2 separate regions of the Homo sapiens genome follow, and region 1 is linked to region 2. The links come from fine-mapping of genetic effects on gene expression. Tissue or cell type: unexposed skin. Region 2 holds a variant in brackets; the other region holds the start of a gene. All regions are shown on one strand. Distances are between the middles of the regions.

What was found. PIP is the estimated chance that this variant, and not a neighbour inherited with it, causes the effect. A credible set is the group of variants that fine-mapping cannot tell apart.
Region 1: PDCL3 starts here. The variant in region 2 is the best candidate, but not a certain one, in a credible set for the expression of PDCL3 in unexposed skin (GTEx, PIP 0.50).

What each region holds. Positions count from the first base shown.
Region 1 is chr2:100,559,764-100,567,763 of GRCh38, reverse strand. It overlaps PDCL3 (phosducin like 3), which reads right to left and starts at 4,771. Exons shown (of 6, transcript NM_024065.5): 1 at 4,691-4,771; 2 at 1,135-1,261. The coding sequence starts at 4,696. RefSeq lists a silencer at 4,445-4,784 and an enhancer at 5,230-6,026.
Region 2 is chr2:100,532,151-100,540,498 of GRCh38, reverse strand. No RefSeq gene overlaps it. Among named protein-coding and RNA genes, the nearest start is that of PDCL3, 27 kb to the left of the region's middle. RefSeq lists an enhancer at 2,115-2,666. The variant G/C (reference allele first, on the strand shown) is at 5,131.

The DNA of each region.
Region 1 (8,000 bases), 27 kb before region 2:
GCCAAGGTCCTTACTAGAAGCTTCTGGGTCTGCTGAGGCTGCTCTGAACTCTCTCCCCCAGCGCCTCCAGCTCCTCAGGGATTCCCAGCCATGCCAGGGCCCATATTTCACTCGCTCACGTCACCCCCTTCAGGAATACCCAGATGTCTTCTTCACCTCCTTCAGGTCTCAACAACTCCCTCAGGTCTATTCAAATGTGTTCTTCAGCTCCTTCAGGTCTTTACCCAAATGCCAGCTTCACCTCCTTCAGGTCCATGCAAATGTCATCTCAGTGAGGCCCTCTCTGAGCCTGCTTCTCCTCCAACCCTTTCTAGTCCCTTTTACTGCCTTATTTTCTTTATTGTTTATTGTCTGTCTCCCCCACTTGAATGTTGGTTCTCTGAGGGCAGAGAATTGTCTCTGGCTTATGCATAGCTAAATCCCCAACCCCAGAAAAGCACCTGACAATGATAATCATGCAGTAAGCACTCGCTGGATACTTTCTAATAAATCCTTCTCTAAATTAGCTCTAATGTGTCAACAGAGGACAAAAGTACTAGTCCCTGGGACCAGTGCTTCTCAAACTATGACACGCATCAGAATCCTTTAAGGCACTTGTTTAAAATGCAGATTCCTGGGCCTCATTCCAGAGACTGCTTCAGTAAACACTAGGTGGGTGGGGTTACCAGCACTCCAAGGGACTCCAATTCAGACAGTACAACTGCCTTTGAGAAAACCCCCCTCAGACTCCCACACATTGCAAACATCTTATGCCTCCCCAAATGAAGCAATTTTTAGTTAATATCCTCAATGAAACCACAGAAAATAAAGTATATGCTCAGGAAAATACAAGTACTAAAAACCTTGAACAAATTTCCATGACATTATCAAAGGGAATCACAGACCAGAAAGCAGAAAGAAGTATTTTCTTCAGTGCTCATGTGACATGGACAAGGACTTGTGGGACATATCTGAAGTCCCCTAAGTCTATGGCTCAGGAAGGTGAAGGTGAGAGACGCCCTGTGTTTTGTCTGAGGTCCCACAGACACAGAGTGTCCATGCTGGCACTCCAACCTGTCTCCTGGCAGGGCAGTCAGAGGCTTAGGGAGCCATCTCCTAACCCAGACAGGTGCAGAGGAAAGCGAGTGAACTCACCCACTGACTGCTGGAGGATGCGCTGCTCCTCTTCTGCCTCCTCTTCCAATTCTTTCAGACTTTCCTTGGGGGGTAAGATACCCTTTTTGCGTAAGATGTCATTCCATTCAGTGTCTGCGTTGGGGTCCTAGAAGAGCGGGACCAAGGTTACCATGAGTGCTAAGTCTAGTATGTAGGGTGCCACGTTGGGCAAGGGGCCAAATGGGAAAAGTGACAGGAAGGGAGGAATGCACACCAGTCTGTGAACTATTTCTGAGAAAGTGTCAAAAGATCCATAGCCCCCGTTTTGTTTTTCCTGTCTACCCCTCCCTGAATGGAGGAGCTATTCTTGGGGTAAAAATTAGGATAGGGAGTGCAGATCAGTATCAATACGGATACCAAGGCTCTGACTTGGCATGTGTTCAATATTTTTAATAATGACTGAGAGTGCCGGGCACAGTGGCTCACGCCTGTAATCCCAGCACTTTGGGAGGCTGAGGCAGGCGGATCACGAGGTCAGGAGATAGAGACCATCCTGACTAACACGGTGAAACCCCGTCTCTACTGAAAATACAAAAAATTAGCCGAGCGTGGTGGCGGGCACCTGTAGTCCCAGCTACTTGGGAGGCTGAGGCAGGAGAATGGCATAAACCCGGGAGGCGGAGCTTGCAGTGAGCCGAGATCGTGCCACTGCACTCCAGCCTGGGCGACAGAGCAAGACACAGTCTCAAAATAATAATAATAATAATGACTGAGTGATTCATTCAACAGATAAAACTGAAGTATCTACCACATGTAAATTATTGTAGGCAATGGGGAAGAGTGGTGAATGCGAGAGTCACCTGTGTTACAGACAAGAGGAAGAGACAGGCAACAAACAAGTATATATACAAACTATACATAGAGAGATAAAATTGTGGCAAGTGCAATGACAAACAGGCTGCCATTTTAGAGAATTACCCAGGACCCACATTCCACAGAGTAGATAGGGATGTTCCCTACAGAGGAGGTGACATTCCGTCTGAGGGTGGAAAGCAATCTGTGATAGGAGTCTGGGGGCTTACAAATAATCTTCCAGGCTGGGCACGGTGGCTCACGCCTGTAATCCCAGCACTTTGGGAGGCAGAGGTGGGTGGATCACAAGGTCAGGAGATCGAGAGCATCCTGGCTAACATGATGAAACCCCGTCTTTACTAAAAACACAAAAAATTAGCCGGGCGTGGTGGCGGGCGCCTGTAGTCCCAGCTACTCGGGAGGCTGAGGCAGGAGAGTGGCAGGAACCCGGGAGGTGGAGCTTGCAGTGAGCCGAGATCGAGCCGCTGCACTCCAGCCTGGGCGACAGAGCTAGACTCTGTCTCAAAAAAAAAAAAAAAAATCTTCCAGGCTGGGTGGAGTGGCTCACGCCTGTAATTCCAGCTCTTTGGGAGGCCAAGGCAGGTGGAGCATCTGAGGTCAGGAGTTAAAAGACCAGACTGGCCAGTATAGTGAAACCCCATCTCCACTAAAAACACAAAAATTAGCCAGGTGCACGCCCGTAATCAAGAAAATAATCTTCCAGGCAGAGCGGCCTGCGGCATGCATACTGCCCAAGAGCAAAGAGACTGTGACATTTTGAGGATCTCAGGCTGCAGATGAGGCTTGGCTGACAGAATTCTCTAATGGCCAAACCTGAGAGGAAAAGCTGAGACGTCTCAGAGTAGCTCATAAAATACAGGGCACTCTAAGCCCTTTTTCTTGTACCTTGTCCCTGAATCCTCACAAGCCTAGGAGAGGCACGGCATTTAGAGGCACTGCCATGCTAGAACGGCTGGCCAAATCAGCCAGCATCAAAATCACAAAGGATCATTGTCACAAAGACTGATGTAAAAGTGGCTCTTAGATCTAGAACCCAGCTGCCCAAGCACCGGTTTGCATGGTGTGGCAAGAACACTGCTAATGGAGCTCAGGCTTGCTTTGGAATATGAAATCAGGAGCACTGTGAAAAGGGCACCGGGATAATCGGTCTCCAACCCCAACCCTGTGTAACAGTTCTGAGATACATCAAAAGAAAAATGAGGCCGGGCGCGGTGGCTCATGCCGATAATCCCAGCACTTTGGAAGGCCTAGGCGGGCAGATCACCAGGTCAGGAGATCGAGACAATTCTGGCTAACATGGTGAAACCTTGTCTCTACTAAAAATACAAAAAATTACCCGGGAGTGGTGACGGGCGCCTGTAGTCCCAGCTACTCAGGAGGCTGAGGCAGGAGAATGGCGTGAACTGGAGAGGCGGAGCTTGCAGTGAGCCGAGGTCGCGCCACTGCACTCCAGCCTGGGCGACAGAGCAAGACTCTGTCTCAAAAAGAAACAAACAAACAAACAAACAAAAAGAGCAGAATCCTTTCTACAGGGTGGTCAGGGAAGGCCTCAAGGGACCTGAAGGACAGGGAATGCAAAGGAGGCCAGGGCAGCCCTCAAGCTACCACTTCACCATTTAAGAGTGTCTAGGCCAGGTGCGGTGGCTCATCCTGTAATCCCAACACTTTGGGAGGCTGAGGCTGGGCAACATAGGGAGACCCCATCTGCACAAAAAATTAGCCCAGAGTGGTGGGTGCACGCCTGTGGTCCCAGCTACTCCGGAGGCTGACAAGGGAGGATGGCTTAGCCCCGGGAGGTCGAGGTTGCAGTGAGCTGTGACAGAGCCACTGCACTCCAGCCTGGGCAACAGAGCAAGACCCGGTCTCAAAAAAAAAAAAAACAGTGTCTGGCTCCTGGCAGACACGCCCTCCCCTCCAGCCCCTAATGCCTCCCTCCCCAGCAAAACCCGCACCCTCTCCTCTCCATCTGCCACTAAGCAGAGATTAGAATTTCTGACCACTGCGGGATCTTTGGACAGTGACAAAATTTAGTTGGCATAGGTTTTCACCCACAATAGTGCCCATTTCCATGGTGTTTTCATTCATTCTCCTTAGGCTTTAACCAAATTCCGCTAGTAAATTGCAGCTACAGAAAAATAATTTATTTTACCTATTTTAATAAAAAAAAAAAAAAGGACGAAACAGAGGGACCCTCGCGGGGAGCTCTGGAACCCGAGCGGTCAGATAGGGAACACGCCCCAAGCGGATCCCAGGGCTCGGGGGAAGAGGGTGTAACTAAGCCCTCACCTGGCTCTCAGTGGAGCCAGGAACACCGGCTGTGGCGCTGCTTTACGTGCGGAAGACCCCAGGCCGGACCCTCCGCTTCCTAACACCTCTGCCCAGGTGTGCCTTAGGGGAGTTCAGGAGAGGAGGTAACTTTTGTTAGGCGGGATCCGGCAAGACCTTCACAGGCCCGGGTGGGTAGAGACCGCGAGAAGACATAGTCCCGGAGGACGAGGTTTGGGGGACCCGGCACACCGAGGCGGGGACGCCCAGGCCGTGGGTCCTGGTGGGACCACGCCCGCCTCCCGCACTGCGCCTGCGCAGGGCCTGGACGCGCCGGGCCTCCCTCGTGCCTGCGGCGCCGGAGCTTCCCCCAGGGCGGGCGTCCACTGCCCGCCCGGGCCTAACGAGACAAAGGAACGGGCCGCAGCCCCCAGACCCGAGACCCGTCCTAGCTCACCTGCATCTTGTTTCCAGTTCAGTTGCTCAAACCAGCTGTGCCGCAGCGCCCCCGCCCCTCAGCTCTCTTTTGTGCACGCGCACAGCGCCGCCACGCCTCTTCCCCCAGCCCAGCCTTCGCCCCGCCCAGGGACGAGCGGCGGGGAGTAAGGGCGGAAGCAACAGCCTTGAGTCTGCGCCTGCTCTTCAAGGAACTGGCACAGAAGCGTTCGCATGCGCCAGATAGGATCTGCCTACTGTCCTGCTCGGAGTGCACTTGACCTGGTTCTAATTCTGGTGGCTGCCTTATTAGGGCTGGTCTTCAGCGGAGGAGGGGTGGGGCTGGGTGGAGGAGGAGCCCGGGGCCGTGTGCCTTTTCCAGCTGCCGGCCCAAACCTGTAAAGACGTCTCGCTCTGACTAGCCTAACAAGTCAGAAATAGAAAATTGCCTCTAGGCCGGGCGCGGTGGCACACGCCTGTGATCCCAGGCCGAGGCGGGCGGATCACTTGAGGTCAGGAGTTCGAGATCAGCCTGGCCAACATGGTGAAACCCCGTCTCTACTAAAAATACAAAAAAATTAGCCGGGCGTAGTGGTGGTTGCCTGTAATCCCAGCTACTCTGGAGGCTGAGGCAGAAGAATTGCTTGAACGGGGGAGGCGGAGCTTGCAGTGAGCTGAGATCTCTCCACTGCACTCCAGCCTGGGTTACAGAGCGAGACTCCGTCTTAAATAAATAAATAAATAAAAATGATGCAGGGTCTTCTGGAATTCACCCACGATCACTTCAGCCTTGGAAAAGGCAACTCATTAATAAGACATTGAGAGCCTGCTGTGTACCAGGCACCATTCTAGGCTCTGCAGATGCAGCAGTGAGCAAAACACTAAAACAAAGGTGAAAGTCATCTGCCGTGCCTGAGTATCAGGAGACCCATGTATGCAGGCACACAGGCACTGAGCAAAAAGCAGCAATCTGACTTGTAAAATGCAGGTATTGGGCTCCAGAGCTTCTGCCCAGGCACACTCCAAGTTTAAGAGAGCAATATTCCTACCTGGTATGGAAGGAAGCATCTTGCACACGTGGGCTAACTTGCTGCCTCCTGGCAACTAAGCGGACACAGAGAGTAGAGACCCACACACCTGTGAGATAGGCGCAGGGCTTCCAACCGTGGCTATGCATTAGAATCACCTGGAAGCCCTCAAAAACTAGGAATGTCCTGGGGCTCCATCCCCAGACAAATTAAATCCTTGGAAATGAGGCCTAGCACAGATACTTTCTTAAAGATCCTCAGGTGATGCTAAAGTGCACAGTCGTTGATATAGAGTGAATCAAATGATTGCTTGAGAGCAAGGAGTTTTTATTTAATTTATAAGGATCCTTAAGATTTTTCTCACTCATTTCAACTGAATTACAGGCCCTTTTAGGGATTTATTAATGTATCTGGCAGCACAATGTTTGTTAATGAATTTTCCTTGGGTCTTACCACCAAAATCAGGACTGGAACTAACTTTGAGTTTGATCCTGTGCTTCTTGCTCAGTCCTGCACAGCAACAGAGCAGGTGGTGTTTTGTCCTTTCCTCATCCCCAGCCTTTGCTGTTCCCTGAGGCCTGTTTTCCAGGACTCAGCTATTCTACAGTTGCTCTTCCCCACATGATCCGGTCAGAGGCATTCTAACCAAAGCCAATCCATCCTGAATAGGGGATGGGGAAAAGGAGGCTGAGACCTACTGGGTTGTATTCCCAGAAGGTTACGCATGCTTAGTCACAGAATATTTACCAAACAGACCTAAGACAACAGACCCAGGAAATGGCCTGGTGTCCTGAAAGCTTTCTTTTTTCTTTCTTTTTTTTGAGATGGAGTTTCACTCTTGTTGCCCAAGCTGGAGTGCAATGGCGTGATCTCGGCTCACTGCAATTTCCACCTCCTGGGTTCAAGCGATTCTCCTGCCTCAGCTTCCGAATAGCTGGGATTACAGGTGCGCGCCACCACGCCTGGCTAATTTTTTTTTTTTGTATTTGTAGTAGAGACGGGGTTTCACTGTGTTAGCCAGGCTGGTCTCGAACTCCTGACCTCAGGTGATCCACCTGCCTTGGCCTCCCAAAGTGCTGGGATTAAAGGTGTGAGCCACCGCACCTGGCCTTGTTTTGTTTTTTTGAGAGTCTCTCTTTGTTCCCCACCCTGGAGTGCAATGGCAAGATCTCAGCTCACTGCAGCCTCCCCCTCCTGGGTTCAAGTGATTCTCCTGCCTCAGCCTCCCAAGTACGTGGGATTACAGGCATGCACCACCACGCCGGGCTAAGTTTTGTATTTTTAGTAGAGACAGGGTTTCGCCATTTTGGTCAGGCTGGTCTCGAACTCCTGAGCTCCTCATCCCAAAGTGCTGGGATTACAGGCGTGAGCCAGAGTGCTGGGATTACAGGTGTGAGCTACCACGCCCAGCCAAGAACAAAAGCATTCTTAAAGTTTTGTTTTAACAATAATATAGATTATTGGGAAAGACAGTAGTTATGAAATCTGGCCCAATAGTCCCACAGACAGTTGTTTTTGGATAAACATAGACATTGACCCTTCTGCTGTTAAAGCTTGAAACTTGTATCTGTTTAATCTGAGTTTCTTCCTTAGGAAAGGACCTTCAGGCCTCTCAGAAAAAGTATCAAAGAACTGAAACTCAACAGATGACCTCACCAGATGCATCCTTGCCCTTCCCTCTTCTTGTTTTCTTACACCATGTTACATTTCTTCCCTGCTATATAAACCCCTAGTTTTAGTCAGTCGGGGAGATGGATTTGAGACTGATCTCCTGTCTCGTCTCCTTGTCTCCTCGGCTGCAGCACCCAATTAAAGGCTTCTTCCTTGGGAATACTTGTCATCCCAGTGATTGGCTTTCTTTTTTTTTTTTTTTTTTTTTTTTTCCGAGACAGAGTCTCGCTCTGTCACCCAGGCTGGAGTGCAGTGGCGCAGTCTCGGCTCACTGCAAGCTCCGCCTCCCGGGTTCAAATGATTCTCCTGCCTCAGCCTCCCGAGTAGCTGGGACTACAGGCGCCTGCCACCACGCCCGGCTAATTTTTTGTATTTTTAGTAGAGGCAGGGTTTCACTGTGTTAGCCAGGATGGTCTTGATTTCCTGACCTCGTGATCTGCCAGCCTCAGCCTCCCAAAGTGCTGGGATTACAGGCGTGAGCCACCACGCCCAGCCCCATCCCTCTTGCTTTTGTCAAAATTATTCTTTTGTTATTCTTTCCACCTGTGCTCCAGATCCTCTCACCTCCCTCAGGGACTTCTTTCATCTTTCCATCCTTCTTGGCTGTGGAGAAAATAATTACAGCTTATGAGA
Region 2 (8,348 bases):
CAGGCACGAGCCACCGCGCCTGGCCTTGCAACTCCTTATCTTGATGCAGACAATTCTTTCTGTTGATTCCAGGTCTTTAGACAATAACTTAACTCTTTCAACCAATTGTCAATCAGAAAATCTTTAAATCCACCTATGCCCCTCCCCTCCCCCTACCCACTTAGACTTTGTCCTGCCTTTCTGGATGGAACCAATGCAATGTATACCCCATACGTATTGATTAGTGTCTTATTGTCTCCATAGAATGCATAAAAACCAAGCTGTAATCCAATCACCTTGGGCACAAGTTCTCTCCAGACTCTGCCTTGGGCTTTGGTCACTCATATTTGGCTCCGAATACACCTCCTTAAATATTTTACAGAGTCTGACTCTTTTCATTGACACCTGCAAGCCATCAAGGAAGTCAGGATTTAAGCATTAGCTGCCTCATCCTTCTTGCATGGTGCCCTGCAAATAAATATCTTCCTTTCTTCTGCTGCAAACCATTGTGCAGTTATCTGGTCTTACCGTGCCGGGCAAGTGGGCCCTAGTTAGGTTCTATATAACCCTGGTCCTATCCTTCTTTCAAAGCATCATAGCTGACTCAACACTAGATGGGTAAGAAAATGCTATATTTTGCTTCCCTGATTCTCAAAACTATAAAAAAGCTACAACTTTGTAAAGTTTGATAGAGTAGGCTGGGAAACACTGATGTCACGTTGCAGAAAAATCTAGGCTCTGAAATAACACCACATCCCACCCAACCCAACTCCACCCTGTTTTTCCTTATCTCTGATAGCTTAGCCATTATGTTAGCAAAAGCAAAAGGATTTTAAAAATGAATGCTCTTCCCAAGAGCTCTCAGCGTACCAGGGCTGATTTGCAGTTTCCTTTGGGCTAGCTTCACAAGCACTTGAGAAATGGCAACCATACTTAGAGAACTAGCTGTTTGGCTTTCAGTTATCAAGCAGTTGTGATAGAATACCTGGTTGCCAAACTGCTATATCTATCTGAAAATGTTTGTGAGAAGAAGAAAGCCTGAATCATGCTCTGCCACATCCAGCTAGAACCTGAATGCACGAGGATCTGAGCAAGCTCTTTCAAGCTGTGACCATCTGTAAGACTGGGTGATGCCAAACATTCATCCTAAGCTACTTCCCCAAACTATGGAGCCAAAACCCCACAACAATCTATTGTCTTGCTAAGATGTCCTCCAATAGGAGGTGGAAAACAGCCTGGCTTTACTTGGATCCTTTTCTATAAGGAGCTGAATCATCTTCAGAAATTTTAATATTAAAATGTTAATATTTAAATTATATATATATATATATGTATGGTTTTTGCGACGGAGTCTATATTATTACTACAAGCACGCGCCACCATGCCCGGCTAATTTTTGTATTTATAGTAGAGACGAGGTTTCACAATGTTGGCCAGGCTGGTCTCCAACTCTTGACTTTGTGATCTGCCTGCCTCAGCCTCCCAAAGTGCTGGAATTACAGGCATGAGCCACCACTCCAGCCTTAATAATATTAAAAGTCAGCCCTGGTACACTGAGAGCTCTTGGGAGGCACATTCAATTTTAAAATCCTCTTGCTTTTTGCTAACATAATCACTCAGCTATCAGAGATAAGGGAAAACAGGGTGGGGTTGGGTTGGGTGGGACGTGGTGTTATTTCAGAGCCTAGATTTTTCTGCAACGTGACATCAGTGTTTCCCAGCCTACTCTATGAAACTTTTCAAAGTTGTATCTTTTTTATAGTTTTGAGAATCAGGGAAGCAAAATATAGCATTTCTTACCCATCTAGTGTTGAGTCAGCTATGATGTTTTGAAAGAAGGACAGGACCAGTGTTATGAAATAATTGAAGCTTATATCATGTGACAACAATTATCGTAATGTTGTGTGAGTTATTAAGAAATTATTTTAGGCAGATAGAGAAGAAAAGGGGTCCTTGGAAAGTTGTTTCTTTTAAAGCAGCTCCATAAACTTTTTTTTTTTTGGAGACAGAGTCCTGCTCTGTGGCCCAGGTTGGAGTACAATGGTTCGATCTTGGCTCACTGCAACCGACACCTCCCGGCTTCAAGCGATTCTCCTGCCTCAGCCTCCCGAGTAGCTGGGATTACAGGCAACCGCCACCATGCCTGGCTAATTTTTTGTATTTTTAGTGGAGACGGGGTTTCACCATGTTGGCCAGGCTGGTCGGAACTCCTGACCAGAGGTGATCCAGCCCCCTCAGCCTCCTAAAGTGCTGGGATTACAGGCGTGAGCCACCACCCCTGGCTGAAACGTTTCTTGTCTAGCAGGAAAGCCCCAGCTCTTAGAGCCAAGTGGCAACCTTTGATATGCAAATGCAAGCCATTAGAAACTGAGTCCAGCCAAACAAGGCGATTTCCGCCCTCTTCTCCTTGCCCTTGCCCTGACCTGTGCCTGACAATATGGCCGCCCTCACATATCCCCACGTGGGTACAACATCCTGACGCCTTGTATATTAAAAGGCTAGGGTCGGAGGGCCAGTTTTTTTGCTGGCTAGGTGAATGACATCCCTGGTCAAACCAATCCCCTGAGCCCTATGCAAATCAGACACCACCTCCTCCAGCCTACTCATATAAGCAGCCACTTTTCTGTGGCACATGGGGTCTCCTCTCTTGGATTTGGAGTCCCCTCTGACTGTCACTGAATGGGGGAGCTTCTTCCTTCTTTCTTGCCTATTAAACTTTCCACTCCTTAAAACCACTCCATGTGTGTCCATGTCGTTTTACCCAATTCGTGGGAGACAAGAGCCCTGGTGGTGTTCCTCCACTCATCGGAGCTGTATCAGTCAGTGAAGATTGTATCTTTATTTTTATTTTATTTTATTTTTGAGACGGAGTCTAGCTCAGTCTCCCAGGCTGGAATGCAGTGGCCTGATCTCGTCTCACTGCAACCTCCACCTCCTGGGTTCAAGCAGTTCTCCTGCCTCAGCCCCCTGAATAGCTGGGATTACAGGCACCCACCACCATGCCCAGCTACTTTTTGTATTTTCAGTAGAGATGGGGTTTCACCATGTTGGCCAGGCTGGTCTCAAACTCCTGACCTCACGGTCTGCCCGCCTCGGCCTCCCAAAGCACTAGGATTATAGGCGTGAGCCACTGCGCTCGGCAAGATTGTATCTTTAAAGAGGTTTTGGATATCAGTGTTATTAAAGGAAGAAAATATTTATCTAAAATCTCCCTTTTTAAATTTTTTGAGAGAGACTCACTCTGTTGCCCAGGCTGGAGTGCAGTGGCGCAATCTCGGCTCACTGCAGCCTCTGCCTCCCAGGTTCAAGCGATTCTCCTGCCTCAGCCCCCTGAGTAGCTGAGATTACAGGCATGTGCCACCACACTTGGCTAATTTTAAGTTTTTTTGTTTGTTTGTTTGTTTCTTTGAGATGGAGTCTCACTCTGTCGCCTAGGCTGGAGTGTAGTGGTGTGATCTCCACTCACTGCAGCCTCTGCCACCTGGGTTCAAGCAATTCCCCTGCCTCAGCCTCCCGAGTAGCTGGGATTACCGGTACCTGCCACCACACCCTGCTAATTATTGTATTTTTAGTAGAGACGGGGTTTCACCATCTTGGCCAGGCTGGTCTTGAACTCTTGACCTCGTGATCCACCCGCCTCCCAAAGTGCTGGGATTGCAGGCGTGAGCCACCACACCCGGCTATTTTATAGTTAATAATTTAATTAGTTGAAATTCTTAGAGGTCTAATCTTGCTATTTGCTATGTAAGGCTATGGGGACACCCTTCTCTTTGAATAGAATTCTCTAAATCTGGAGACTGTGATTTAGATAAGTAGCATATATTAGAGAAAACGTTTTTAAATAGTTAATGCGATCCATCAAAGGGAGATTTTAGGCTGGATGCGGTGGTTCGCACCTTTGATCTCAGCACTTTGAGGGGCCGAGACAAGGAGGAAGAGGTGGTTAACTATTAAAGTGTTTTGAATGCTACATGTATTGAATGTTTGAGATGAACACAGCCTAGCTATTTCCCCTTGTGCCAACCACCTCAGACAAGGCTTTTAATCAATGGAAATACATACTTAGTGCAAACATTTTCAATAAACTACATCCATTGCTTTGCTTTATATTTATATGTTGCCAGGAAAATTACTTAAGCATCTTTGTTCATCTGTTCTAGCATATGTAAAGATTCAAATAAGAAATGTGGGGGCACATGTTCTCAGGATTTCCTGAGGCTGTGTCATGGGCCATTGTCACATTTGGCTCAGAATAAATCTATCCAAATATTTTACAGAGTTTGACTCTTTTTGTCAACAAGATCTGATGCTATCCCTAGGTAGAGAGTGTGGGGACTGAATTGAAGGCACATAGCTGCTGTCTGCTACTTGGTGGTTGGGAAAAACACTGGAAACCAAAAATAAAATTCTAAGTCCCCCAACCGACTGAATGGACTGCTCCTTTTGGCCAAGGGCACTCCAGAGTTCATCTGAAATTCTAGCTCAGGCCATAATAAGAAAGGGGGAGGATGGGGAATGCCTCATTACTCACCTCCCTTTGGAATTCAGGTACAGCTGACCAGCATTCACAGTAAAACAGAAGTCTTAGGACTGACCAAGCAATACGATATCAGTATGACCCATAGCAGGTCCTTAAAAAAAAATGTGTTCAGCAACCTTCATGAAGGAATAAAACTCCACTTGAACTAATCACATCGAAATTCAAAGCTTTTTGCAATATTCTTTTTTTTTTTTTTTTTTGAGACGGAATCTCGCTCTGTCGCCCAGGCTGGACTGCAGTGGTGCTATCTCAGCTCACTGCAAGCTCTGCCTCCCGGGTTCACACCATTCTCTTGCCTCAGCCTCCCAAGTAGCTGGGACTACAGGCGCCCGCCACCACGCCCGGCTAATTGTTTTGTATTTAGTAGAAACGGAGTTTCACTGTGTTAGCCAGGGTGGTCTCGAACTCCTGACCTTGTGATCTGCCCGCCTCAGCCTCCCAAAGTGCTGGGATTACAGGCATGAGCCACCACGCCTGGTCTGCTTTTTGTAATATTCTTTTTTTTTTCTTTTTTTCTTTTTTTTTTGAAACGGAGCCTTATTCTGTCACCCAGGCTGGAGTGCAGTGGCATGATATTGGCTCACCGCAACCTCCACCTCTCGGGTTCAAGT[G/C]ATTCTCCTTCCTCAGCCTCCTGAGTAGCTGGGATTACAGGCGCCTGCCACCACACCCAGCTAATTTTTGTATATATTTAGTAGAGATGGGGTTTCACCATTTGGGCCAGGCTTGTCTTGAACTCCTGATCTTGTGATCCACCCGCCTCGGCCTCCCAAAGTGCTGGGATTGCAGGCGTGAGCCACCGCGCCCGGCCTGCAATATCCTTAAATCTTATTTCTGTACTACTCAAAACAACAGTTTGTTTTTCTCCTAAGGGATTAAGATAAAAATAATCAAGAGCCAGGCAAGGTGACTCATGCCTGTAATCCCAGCACTTTGGGAGGCTGAGGCCGGTGGATCACTTGAGCTCAGGAGTTCGAGACCAGCCTGGGCAACACAGTGAAACCCCATCTCTACTATAAAAAATACAAAAATCAGCCAGATGTAGTGGTGTGCCCCTGTAATCCCATCTACTCGGGAGGCTGAGGTGAGAGAATCATCTGAGCCTGGCAAGTCAAGGTTTCAGTGAGCTATGATGGCACCATTGTATTCCAGCCTAGGTGACAGAGTGAGACCCTGTCTCAAAAAAAAAAAAAAAAAAGATAAACAAAATCACTCATTTTCAAAACAAGGGTTTGTTGCTTCTGACATCTCTTTAAGTTAGTAAAATTGAGAGAGTCTGAAAGGGGGTGACCCATTTCCCTGTCCTAACGAGCTGGGCCAAATAGCCAAAGGCTTGATTGGAGGCACTGCAGGGCCAAACATCGTGACTTGTTGCCTCAAGTCCTCTCCATGGTCTGTGGGACAGATGGCAGCAGTGCTCTATGGAGTGGCTGGGTCTGAGTCAAGGTCAATGGCACCAACTCGAAGCACTTGCGAACTGAGGGGAGCTGGTATTTGGGAAGGGTCCAGGGGTCTGAAGGAGGCAAGTGGAGAAATGAACTTTCTAAGCCAATGCACCAATGACTGCAGCAGCTTTTCCTGTGGTGTCCCTGGCCAATGACATTGGAACACCCAGTGACATGGAGCAGGGTGGCCAAAAGCACTACCAAAATCACTGAGACTATTCTCCCTCAATTTCTTAGATCTTGTGTAGGAAATAAAATCTAGAAATTTAGGAGAAAAGTAGCAAGCATTAGAGCTGTCTTTCATCTTTGCATAATAACCCACCTAATCAATAGGAAGCTAGTTGAGTAAAATATTTTTATATTCATTCACTTAGGGACCTAATGAACACTTATTGAGCTCAACATTTATTGAGCTCCTACCATGTTCTATACCCAGTGGTAGATGCTATGGATCCAAAGATAAATAAAACACAAAATTCCTACTTTCAAGGTACTCACTATTGAATAGGAAGATAAGTAAATGAATAAGTTTAATCAAATATTATGTAGGGTGTATCAGTTACCACTTGCTGTGTAACAAACACTTCAAAATTTGGTAGTTTAAAACAACCATTTTTATTTAACTCATGATTCTGAGGATTAGTTGTATAGTTCTGAGCCAGCTCAACTGATCTCTGCTGATTTCTCTTATGTATCTTATGGTCATTTGGCAGCTTGGCTGGTGGCTGGACTATTTCTTATGACCTCAGTCCCATATCTGGTGGTTGGTAGGCTCAACCAGTAAGATGGGAGTGGGTGACTGGGCCATGTGTCGCTCATCATCCAGCAGGCTAACCTGGATTTTTTCACATGGGAGTTGGAGGATTCTGAAAAGCAACAAGAGACTAAGCCCAGTGCTCATGCACTTTGAAAGCATCTTCTGTAACATATTTGATTTTTCACTGGCCAGAGCAAGTGACAGGAGCTGCCCAGAATCCACGGTGGAGAGGGAGATCTGCCTAGAAGAAAGAGAATCATTTTCTGGCCCTTTAGGCACTCCCCACCTGTGGAGTGTCATGGAAATTTGTAGGGGGATAGAAATGAAGAAACCTATCCTGTTGGGGCGGCAGGGGCAGGAGGCAGGAGGGATTTCATAGAAGAGGTGCTGCTATAGAAAGAGAGTGAAAGATCAGAGGTGCCAACCAGGCAGACACCAACAGTGCAGAGGGAGCGGGCACAGTGAGCAAAGGCACCAAGGCAGAAGGCTGTCATGTGCTTTTTAATCATATTCAGAAGTGCTAGGTGTGAGGGGAGCTTAGGGATGGCTGAAGAGGTAGGGCAGGAGATGGGGAACCTCCTATGCCTTGCAACTGGAGATATTGAGGGTGGGCTAGCAGAAGATGTGTATGAACCAAATCTGAGTTTTATTTATTTATTTACTTTTATTTTATTTATCTATTTTTTTGGAGACAGAGTTTCACTCTTGTTGCCCAGGCTTGAGTGCAATGGCGCCATCTCAGCTCACTGCAACCTCTGCCTCCTGGGTTGAAGCGATTCTCCTGCCTCAACCTCCCAGTAGCTGGTATTACAAGCATGCACCACCATGCCCAGATTTTTTTTTTTTTTTTTTTGTATTTTTAGTAGAGACAGGGTTTCACCATGTTGGTCAGGCTGGTCTCGAACTCCTGACCTCAAGTGATCCACCCACCTTGGCCTCCCAGTGTTGGATTACAGGCGTGAGCCACCGAACCCGGCCAATTTATTGATCTATTTTTAAGACAGGATCTTGCTCTGTCACCCAGGCTAGAGTAGAGTGGCGTGATCGTGGCTCACTGCGGCCTCAGTTTCCTCAGACTCAGGTGATCCTCCCAACTCAGCTTCTTGAGTAGCTGGAGCTACAGGTGTGTACCACCATGCCCAGATAATTTTTGTATTTTTTGTAGACAGGGGTCCCACTGTGTTGCCCAGGCTGGTCTTGAACTCCTGGGCTCAAGCTATCTGCCCACCTCAGCCTCCCAAAGTGCTAGGATTACAGGTGTAAACCACCATGCCCGGCCAAATCTGAGTTTTAAAAACGTTTCATCTCATCAAATGACTATAGACTTACAAATATAACAAACAAATAAAATTAATTTTCATCTTAAGATGAAAAGCTATGAGCAACTTGTGGAACTATATTTCTAAGAGGGGATGAATGGATTAATAGAGATTGCAAGATCAGTTTAGTTTATACCATTTTTTTATGTACCAAAATACTGGTACTTTATTATTTTATTTATATATTTTGAGATGGAGTCTTGCTCTGTTACCCAGGCTGGAGTGCAGTGGTGCAGTCTTGGCTCACTGCAACCTCTCCCTCCCGGGTTCAAGTGATTCTCCTGCCTCAGCCTCCCGAGTATCTGGGATTA